Regions from separate parts of the Homo sapiens genome. Here region 1 is linked to region 2. A link means that fine-mapping ties the variant in region 2 to the expression of a gene that starts in the linked region. Tissue or cell type: whole blood. Region 2 holds a variant in brackets; the other region holds the start of a gene. All regions are shown on one strand. Distances are from middle to middle. Region 1 holds the start of PDE5A (phosphodiesterase 5A). Region 2 overlaps PDE5A (phosphodiesterase 5A).

Region 1 (5,524 bases), 36 kb after region 2:
TCCCGGAGCCTTCCCCTCTGTCAAAAAACCCTGAAAGTGACTAAATTGACACCAACTCTGGATGTTCCTTAGGAAAAAAACAAAACAAAACAAAACAAAACAAGATTAAAAAGGGCCCAATTTAAGACCCTTATTAATACATCTGCAAGAGAGCAAAGAATAACAACAACAACAAAAGTTATACAGTCAATTTTCAATGATACATCGTCCCACTGGTGCCACCGGGGCGCCACCACCCAGCACCCGAGACCCGCCGCGCCCCCGGAAAAAGTGGGAAGGGACGTAGGGGGATGCTGAAGGAAGTACCTTGTTTTGTCTCCAAAGGGCAACATAGCAAACGTGGGAAGTTCGTTTTCGAACTCCGCCGATCCTGGACTCCAGGAGGCTCCGTAGGGGCAACAACGCGCGCAGGTGAGGTGAGGTGAGGTCGGCGACTCAGAACCAGCTCCCTCACGGCCCCGGCCTCCGCGCCGCCGCCCGTCGCCTCCCGCTCGCCCCGCGCTGCGCCGCCCCCTGGCGGGGAGCGACCGGCAGAGCCGCGGCCGCGCGCCGGCGAGTGGGACCCGGGCGTCGAACCCGGGCGGGCTCCTCGACCATCACTGCCGGGCGTGTGTCACCCTCCCGGCCAAGACGGCCAGCACCCGCTGCCCGACGGCCGCTGCCCAGAGCAGGCGGCAGCGGGGCACGGACTCTTTCTGCAAAGGGGCGCGTCCTGGAGTCCACGCACCCCGACTATGCATCAATTCCTCAGGCTTCGGGGCACCCGCCCGCCAAGCACTCTCTGCTCCACTCTTCTTGTCCCTCTGCTCCCAGTCTCAATTCCTCCCCAACTCTCCCGCGAGCGTTTCCCACGAGCGCCCCGACTGCCCGCTGCGCAGCCGCCTCCAAAAGGACAGGCTCCCTCCTCCCCGCCCTCCGCAAGGGCCGCCCCGGCGCTTGGCTCTGGACCAGAAAGAGCTGGCCTCTGGGGTCTGCGCTGCCCCTTGGGGTCCGCTCCAGGCGGCGCCTCCCCTGCGCCCTTTGTGTGCACGCCGCAAACCCCTCTGCAGAGCTCTACTTTTGGCGGCACAGCCTTCGGCGGAAAAGCGAGTGAAAGGAGGCGCGCGGGACAAGCAGGAGACTGGAAGGGGGGAAAAGGCAACCGCACTCACTTTGGCAAGGTTCCGTCATGTTGCCTTTGGGCTGTCCCGTGGACTCGTCCCTCACCCCAGCTTCCCCGCCCAGCCAGGGCCAGGGCGAGGGGGGACGGGGGAGGAGCGGAGCCATCAAGACCGACTTGGAAATGGTGCTTCCGGAGCTGCAGGGAAGGGGCTCAGAAACTGTTTGGGTTTTGCTGATTGGATTTTGGGGAACCAGAGGGCTAGAGAGGGGCTAGGGGAAGGCCCGTGAGCACGGATGTATGAAAATAATCATGTTCCCGGGGAATACCAAGAGGGTCGGGGGTGAGGGTGGGAGGTCGGCAAGTACATTTTTGTATTTGAACTTTGTGAGCAAGTTGTATCAAATCCGACACTTGAGTTTTTCGACTGTGCTCGCTTAGAGTTGAGGTTTCTACCTCGTAACAGGACCGAGGACCTACTTCAAAAGCAAAGGGCCTGGGAACAGGGGTGAACGAAGGGCACAATTCAACAGGGGAGAGAAATCAGCCCCGGGTCTTCCGTGGGTCCTCTTCTTACCTGGTGGCTTTTCTAACAAAGTATGAGAAGGTAAAGTCCCAGTGATCGTCCAGCCATGCTTCGACCGAGTCCTGATCCCTCTGCTGCTGCTTCTGCTGCTGGGGCTGCTGCTGCTGTCGCTGCTGCCCGAAGCTGGGGCCGGCCCGCTCCATGGTTGGCACCGCGCGCCTCGGAGGCTCTCTGGTACTGCTTTTCCACCCCAGCTGGGGTCCGTCCCTCAGAAGAACAGGACTCGGCCTCGAGACCCTCCCCCTTCGTCCTGCTCCAGTCGGGCCGGCTTTCGACAAAGCGGCCGGAGCGCCAGGCCAGCCTCCTGCCCCGCCCCGCCCCGCGCGGTTCTACGGGCGCCCAGGTGTGGTGGGCGGGGCCAGGCGCAGCTGCTGCGCCCCCCCCACCCGGGGTCCGGCAGTGTTCCGCTCTCGCAGGCTCTTCAGTCCCCTGGTTCCCAGGAGGCGGCGGCGGCGGCGGCAGCGGCAGCGCCCGGCGAGCTCTCCGGAAGCCAAGTGGCGGCGGCTGGAAGGAGGCCGCGCGGCCGCTGGGGTGCGCTGTGTGCCAAGCCGACTTCTGGGGAGCGCGCTAGGTGACTGGGTGTGTTCTCAGAGTGCCCCAGGGAGGGAAGGTCGCGATGTGGGAAGTTTTGCCCGAAAGTAAGAGATGATGAGACCCTGGGCCCTTTTCCTGGGGCCTGGGAGTGCAATGACCTTCCCGCCTAGCTTTTCCCTAGCCCTACGCTTGGGTCTGGGAGGAGCGGGACCGACCTCCTTCAGAGCCCAGCCCGCTCAGTGACTTAAAGCGGTCCAGCCACGGACCACTGCGGGTGGAGAGAGCTGGGGCGTGTGCTAGCAAGAGAGATTTGCAGGTGTAGGTGGGTAACTTGCAACAAAGCCATACCCGTGCTTAATGTTAATGATAACAGCAATAATTATAACTTAAGTGCCTTTAACCATTGCCTCAAACTTCCCTTATGCATAACTGGAAAAAGATTTACTTGGAAAAGAAAAAGCAAACAAATAATTTCCAATGCTTTGTGCATGAAGTTAGAAAACAAGGGCACCTCTGTACAATTAGGTTAATCCGAGAGCACTGGCGCAACCCAGGTGCAGTCGAGGGCAACCAGTTATCCCAATTTTAAATTAATGCATCATTTTAATTAAATTGGAATTAACACTCCCTCAAAAGTATCCATTAAAAATGGCTCAGCCTTTTTGTCCAATCCCTATCTTGCTTCTTTAAAAAAGGAATTGGTGTCATCCTTTGCTTTGTCTGCATCCCCATCTTCCTGTCATGCATTGGCAGTTTTAATATGGCATTTTGCAATGACCTATATTTTTTGGTAGAATTAAATCTGGAATTATGGGTTGCACAATGTGTGAATGACACCATTAGCAGTGATATAAAAAAAAATGAGTTAGCTGATATACTTCTGACAACTTCCTTCTAAATACTCTTGGCAAGAATTTAAGGCATTATTCACTACATAGAAACACATCATTAAATTGATAATCTGAGAACTTTTAAAAGTATCTTCTAGTCCCCCAATGCAATGGTTTATCTTTCCTTCATTGAGTAATTGACCTTTTGCGACTTCAGTTTTTCTGAAACTTTACTGCTGTATGCAGGTAGCCACAACCAAAGAAAAGCAATCAAAGCAGTAGAGTATGAACTAATGGGTGATAAATTATATTGGATTTAGAAATGAGAATTCTCTCCTAATGTGTTACTATGATAGTGATTATAGTGCTCATGGAATACAGTCATGCGTCACCGAACAACAGGATACATTCTGAGAAATGTATCCTTAGGCAATTTCATCCTTCTCTGAACATCACAGTGTACTAACACAAAATAGATGGCTCAGCCTACTACACACTTAGGCTATTGCTCCTAGACCACAAATCTATACAGCATATTACTGTACTGAATACTGTAGGCAATTGTAATGCAATGATATTTGTGTGTCTAAACATATCTAAACATAGAAAAGGTACAGTAAAAATATAGTATTATCTTATGGGACTCATATATGTGGTCTGTCGTTGACTGAAAAGTGGCACATTACTGTGGAAAGTTTCTCCTCAGTACAGTTTTTTCTTGTGGAAATCCATGCATTCCTCCTAACAGGAGATCAATCGTAATTTAAAACTCTGCTTATCTACTAAAGATGCAGTGAATTTGGGGCTTGAATTATTTGCTTTTGTTGGATACTTGATTAAATAAACACGTATAATCATTTCAATGTTTGTATTCCCTCCAAAATTCATGTTGAAACTTAATCCCTAATTCAACAGTATTAAGAGGAGGTGCCTTTAAGTGGTGATTAGACCATTAGGGCTCTGCCTTTGTGAATGCATTAGTGCCTTTTTAAAAAAAGGCCCAAAGGAGACAGTTGGCCCCTTCTATTCTTTCCACTATGTGAAGACACAGCACTGACCCTTGCTGAGGATGCAGCAACAAGGTGCCATTTTGTAAGCAAAGAGCAGCCCTCACCAGTTGCCAAATCTGCTGGCACTTTGATTTTGGAGTTTCCAGCCTCCAGAACTGAGAGAAATTAATTTCTATTGTTTATAAATATCCCAGTCTGTGATATTTTATTACAGCAACACAAATGGACTAAGACAGTGGGTAATATCAAAATGTTCATTTTTCTCTCCTAACCTGAAAGGGTTAAATTATCAGAAACCAGGAAGGTTTCTGAAAAATTGCTTCAAGAAAAACAATCTATAGGCTGGGCACAGTGGCTCATTCCTGTAATCTCAGAACTTTGGGAGGGAGAGGTAGAAGGATACTTGAGCTCAGGAGTTTGAACCAGCCTGGGCCACATGGCATGACCCCATCTCTACACAAAATTTTTAAAAATTAGCCAGGCATGGGGGAACACACCTGTAATCCTAGTTATTCGAGAGGCTGAGGCAAGAGGATTGAGCCCAGGAGGTCAAGGCTGCAGTGAGCCATGATCGTGCCATTGCACTTCAGCCTCAGTGACAGTGTAAGACCCCCGGCTCTATAACAAAAAAGAAAAAAAAAGAAAAACAGTACATAGATTCTCTCAATAGTGAATCTCAAGTCTGTGTGGTATATATGATAGTTTGGGAGTTACTGTGAAGGCCTATTACCTGAGAAACATATCACAAGGGATTGGGGAACAGAAGTGTCTCAAACAGTTCTAGTCTCTGGGAGATTCAGCCAAAATGTGTAACTATACCTCCTGTAAATTTAAAGTAGTTAAAGGTAAGCATATTTTGAACTGACATTACCTGGGCCTCTTGTTTTTCAACTCCATTTTATTCTTTATCCCAATTTGCCCAATTATTTTGTTTTAACTTGGCATGAATTGTTCTAAGCACCTCAAATCTTGTTATGGAATTAGTTGAAGAATAAGTAAATCATAAACACTCCCAGGATATAACTTGAAAAATGCTGTTAATGCTATTTATAACAAACAAATGAGCAATGATGTATGTATGTGTATATGTATGATATATATATGTGTGTATATGTATATATATATTTAATTTTTGTAAATGACCCAGTCTGTGGTATTTTGTTATTGCAACACAAGTGGACTAAGATATATATATATATATATATAAAATCAATGATATATATGTGTATATACATACATATATGTCATTGCTCATTTGTTGCTCATGAGCAACAGCTTAACTAAAGACCTTCAATGTATTCCCACTGTGCTAAAATAAAATTCAAACTCTGTAACGTGGCTTATGGGGTTCTACATTATTTGGTTGTTACCTACCTGTACTGCTAAAGATTTTGGTCATACAAATAGAAAAAACAAATGCAACAAAGCAAAAACACAAAAAAGAAATATAAGGCATAAAAATGAA
Region 2 (5,000 bases):
ATTATTATGTGGCTAATGACCTCTTCATGCAGCTCTTATTCCTTGTCTCTCTTTAAAGCTCTATTAGTTCTACATCTCCTTTTAAAGAATAGTAGCTGATGCACTTCCAGTGTGCCAGGAACTACGTTAAACCCTTCACTCACATGAATGCATTTAATCTTCCCAATAACCCTTTAAGGTAGATCCTTTTATTGCCCTCATTTTGCAGATGAGGAAACTGAAGATCAAAGGGATTAACCAGTTCCATCCTGGTTTGTCAGCCAGCAACTAAGTGGTAAAGATGGGATTCAAGCCCAGAGCAAGCAATCTTAATAATTAGTCCCCAAAGCCTCCCTGCAACTTTCCATTTTGGTTTAAAATTTTCACGACAAAGAGTAGTTATGTGTACATAAAAAGCAAACACTACTCTGAGTTTGTTTATACAGATATAAATTTAAAGATAATTCTGGAAGTCAAATATTGCACCTTGTTAGTGGCCTGGGTTTATTTTTTGGCCAGCCAAATTACTTTTTATATTATAACAGCCACGCTTGATAGTGTGTCTGTTCTGTCTCTCTTCATTCTTTTCTCTGAAAACGTTAATTCTCAGGAGAAATAATTTTGAACTTGGCAGTGTGAACCTGGGAGGAAAGGGAGCAAGATGAGAAGGAAGGAGAATGGGGAGGGTCAGCAAGATGTTTAAAAAGCTGTGTTCTGGGCCGGGCGCAGTGGCTCACGCCTGTAATCCCAGCACTTTGGGAGGCTGAGGCAGGCGGATCACGAGGTCAAGAGATCGAGACCATCCTGGCTAACATGGGGAAATCCCATCTCTACTAAAAATACAAAAATTAGCTGGGTGTGGTGGCGCACGCCTGTAGTCCCAGCTACTCAGGAGGCTGAGGCAGGAGAATTGCTTGAACCCGGGAGGCAGAGGTTGCAGTGGGCCGAGATCATACCACACTGCACTCCAGCCTGGTGACAGAGTGAGACTCTGTCTCAAAAAAAAAAAAAAAAAAAAAAAAGCCGGGCGTGGTGGCTCATGCCTGTAATCCCAGCATTTTGGGAGGCTGAGGTGGGCGGATCACAAGGTCAGGAGATCGTAGCTATCCTGGCTAACACGGTGAAACCCTGTCTCTACTAAAAATACAAAAAGAAATTAGCCGGGCGTGGTGGCGGGCGCCTGTAGTTCCAGGTACTCAGGAGGCTGAGGCAGGAGAATGGCGCAAACCCGGGAGGCGGAGGCTGCAGTGAGCCGAGATCGCACCACTGCACTCCAGCCTGGGTGACAGAGCGAGACTCTGTTTAAAAAAAAAAAAAAAAAAAAAAAAAAAAAAAGCTGTGTTCTGGAAGCCCTCTCTTGAATAAAGTTACAGATTGAACATCCCTTATCCGAAATGCTCGGGACTTAGAAATGTTTCAAGTTTTAGATTATTTTTGGATTTTGGAATATTTGCATTATTATCAGTTGAGCATCCCTAACAGAAAAATCCAAAATGCTTCAATGAGCATTTCTTTTGAGGGTCATGTTAGCACTCAAAAAGTTTCACATTTTGGAGCATTTTGGATTTTCAAATTAGGTATACTCAATCTGTATTTAGTCCCCAGTGAAGCTACTGAAGATTTTTTCATCTCATGAAATGCTTAGTGTAAGAGTCCAAGGCTCATATTAAGTCACCACAAGGTAAAACAGACACCAGCAGGAGAGGATGTGAGAGCACAGAGAGAGACATGAGAAAGCTCAGGAACCCAGCAGAAGTCTAAAGGAGAGAGCTTCGGGCTATTTGGGGATCTGTGGCCAAACCCACTTCAATCAGATCTGTAAGAAGGCAGCAGGTCCTTGGCTAAGAGTGGGGTTACATATTCATGTAATGAAATTTAAATCATCTCTCAGTAGAATGCCTAGAATTAAAAAGACTGATACACTATGTGTTGCCAAGGATGTGATGTAAGGGGAACTCTCATACACTGCTGATAAGAATGAAATATGGTACAGCTACTTTGGAAGAGTTTGGAAGTTTCTTATCAAATTAAATAAATACCTACCATATGACTTAGCAACTGCCCTCCTATGTATTTACCCAAAAGATGTGAAAGCATAAGTCCACACAAAGGTCTGTATGCAAACACACTGACAGCAGCTTTGTTTTGTAATAGACACAAACTGGAAATAACTGAAATGTTTATCAACTGATGAATGCATAAACAAATTGTAGTATATCCATACCATGGAATAAATCACTCAGCAATAAAAAGGTACAAACTACTGATACATCCAACAGTAGGGCTGAATCTCACACCCATTAGGCTAAGTGAAAGAAGCTACATACAAAAGACCACATACTGTATGATTCCATTTAAATGACATTCTAGAAAAAGCAAAACAATAGTGACAAAAAGCAGATCAGTGCTTGTCAGGAGCTGTGGGTTAAGGGAGGAGGAGATCAACTATGAAGGGGTACAGGGGAACATTTGAAGTGACAGAAATGTTCTATATCTTGATTGCAGTGGTGGTTACATGATCGAATATACATATCTCAAATTCATCAAATTGTACACTTAAGCTGGGTAAATTATATTATATGTGTATTAATCTGTTCTCACACTGTTCTGAAGAAATACCTGAGACTGGGTAATTTATAAAGGAAAGAGATTTAATTGACACACAGTTCCTCATTGCTGGGGAGTCCCCAGGAAACTTACAATCATGGCAGAAGGCAAAGGAGAAGCAGACACCTTGGGCGGCAGGATGGTGTGAGTACAAGTAGGGGAAATGCCAGATGCTTATAAAACCATCAGATCTCATGAGACTCACTCACTATCACGAACAGCATGGGGGAAAACGCCCACATGATCCAATTACCTCCACCTGGTCCCGCCCTTGATACGTAGGGATTATGGGGATTATAATTTAAGGTGAGATTTTGGGTGGGGACACAGACAAATCATGTCAGTACGCGAATTATATCTCAATATAGCTGT[G/GT]TTTTTTTAATTTTTTATTTAATTTAAATCATCCTCACCGGCAGTCATAATATGGAAGAATGTATATCCTGAGGATACTTTCTGTAGAAAGGGCCATCCTACTCACTTCTTCCTAGTGATTCTGTTGCATTCTCATCAGTTCCCCCAATCCTGACTGTTGGAGAAATTGTTCACACTATCTAGAAAGAGAAGCTTAATCAGGGCATAATTCAGGCTGAATCCCTTTGCCGGTACAAAGCTGTTTTGGGGGCCACGATTTTAAAATATCCTTAATAACTAAAAGCTGAACATTGTCTTCCTAAGTGCACGGAATCTTAGTCTGTGGTTTATAACTAGGCCTGCCAGATGAAATTTGAGTTGGATTTGAGTTCAGATAAACAACAAATAATTTCTTAGTATAATGATGTCCCAAATAATGCATGGGACACATTTCTTTAAAAATTTGATATACCTGGCAACCATATTAATAACACAATAATGATCAGTCCATGTATGGCCTTTTCAATTTTATGTATTCATTCACATACTTAGTTAATTAAACTAATTAATTAATCTCATATTACGTCATTGCTGCAGGCATTTTTAGTTACTACTGCTGGAACTACACTTTTTAAGAAACCATGTGGCAACTCTAAGGCACTGAGAATGACTACTGAGAAGTAACTGACTTAGGGCCTTGTTAATCAAATTGTGATCAGCAGACCCAGGTAATCATCAACTTGGTACTTGTTAGAAAAGAATCTCAGGTTCTACCCAGACCTACTGAATTCAGAATCTGCATTTTAACAAAATCCCCAGGTGATTCCTATGCACAACACAGTTTTAGAAGCACTGATTTAGAAAGCTGTGTTTTAGGCAAATTTCCAGGCAGTGATATGTAGAATGGACTAAAGGGAAATTGACTGCAAGGATAGAAACACCTTACAAGAACATTTAAAAACCTTAGGCATTACTTCAAAATCTGAATCATGGTGCATGCAGGTAGCACGAATAAAAAGAAAAAAATATTGAAATCAGAAACATTCTAATGAAAAAAATCAATGGGGTTTGGTAACACACTAGATGGAGGAAGGAGAATAAATGTCAGAATTTGAATATAAATCAAGTAGAAGCATCAAGTACTTCTAATATGATTGGCAGTGGTTCTCAACCTTGGCCACACACTGCAGTCATTTGGGAGCTTTAACAAATACTAATACCTGGGTCCCAATCCCTGAGATTCTGATTTAAGGTGAAACCTCGGCATTAGAATTTTTAAATGCTATACCCAGATAACTGGTAAAACATTTCCGCGTGTGTCTGTGAGGGTGTTCCCAGAAGAAATTAGCATTTGAATCAGTAGACTGAGTGAAAAAGATTCTCCCTCACCAATGTAGGTGGGCATCATCCAATCCACTAAGGGCCCAAACAGAACAAAAAGGCAGAGGAAGAGCATATATTGCTCTCTCTTCGGAAGCTGGGACATCCATCTTCTCCCTCCTCTGAGACAACAGAACTTCAAATACTCAGATCCTTGGATTCTAGGACTCACACCAGCAAATCTCCCATTTCTCAGGCCTTCAGCCTCAGACTGAATTACACCACAGGTTTTCCTGTTCTCCAGCTTGAAGATGGCAGACTGTGGGACCTCTTGGTCTCCATAATTGCATGAGCTAATTTCCATAAATAAATCCCCTCATATATCCTCATATATCCTATTGATTCTGTTTCTGTGGAGAACCCCAATTAATACAATTGGTAATCTTTTAGACTTCTCCAGTTGGTTGTAATACACAGTCAGGATTGAGAATGCTCAATTGAAATATTCAGTTTAACTGATAATTTATTAACTCTTTTTTCCAAATAAGTGTAAAATGAAGAGGGAATTCAGTGATAACAGAATCCAAATCTTCTAGTTAGGTGAAATATAAACTAACATATTTTCATTTGCCTGTTAAAATTTCAAATTGAAATTTACATAATTAGAATTAGCTATGATTTCCATTTTTTTCAAAACCTCAATTTGAATGAAATCCGTTAATGACCACTGTAGTTGGATGAGC

The links.
Region 1: it holds the start of PDE5A, and the variant in region 2 is fine-mapped to the expression of PDE5A in whole blood (INTERVAL, PIP 0.94).

What each region holds. Positions count from the first base shown.
Region 1 is chr4:119,626,844-119,632,367 of GRCh38, forward strand. PDE5A (phosphodiesterase 5A) reads right to left here and starts at 1,961. Exons shown (of 21, transcript NM_001083.4): 1 at 1,677-1,961. The coding sequence starts at 1,828. LOC107986192 (a long non-coding RNA gene) reads left to right here and starts at 947. Exons shown (of 1, transcript NR_165235.1): 1 at 947-3,912. RefSeq lists silencers at 395-674, 1,895-2,294 and an enhancer at 805-854.
Region 2 is chr4:119,591,174-119,596,173 of GRCh38, forward strand. All of the region lies in intron 3 of PDE5A (phosphodiesterase 5A), which reads right to left. Among named protein-coding and RNA genes, the nearest start is that of PDE5A, 35 kb to the right of the region's middle. The variant G/GT (reference allele first, on the strand shown) is at 2,959.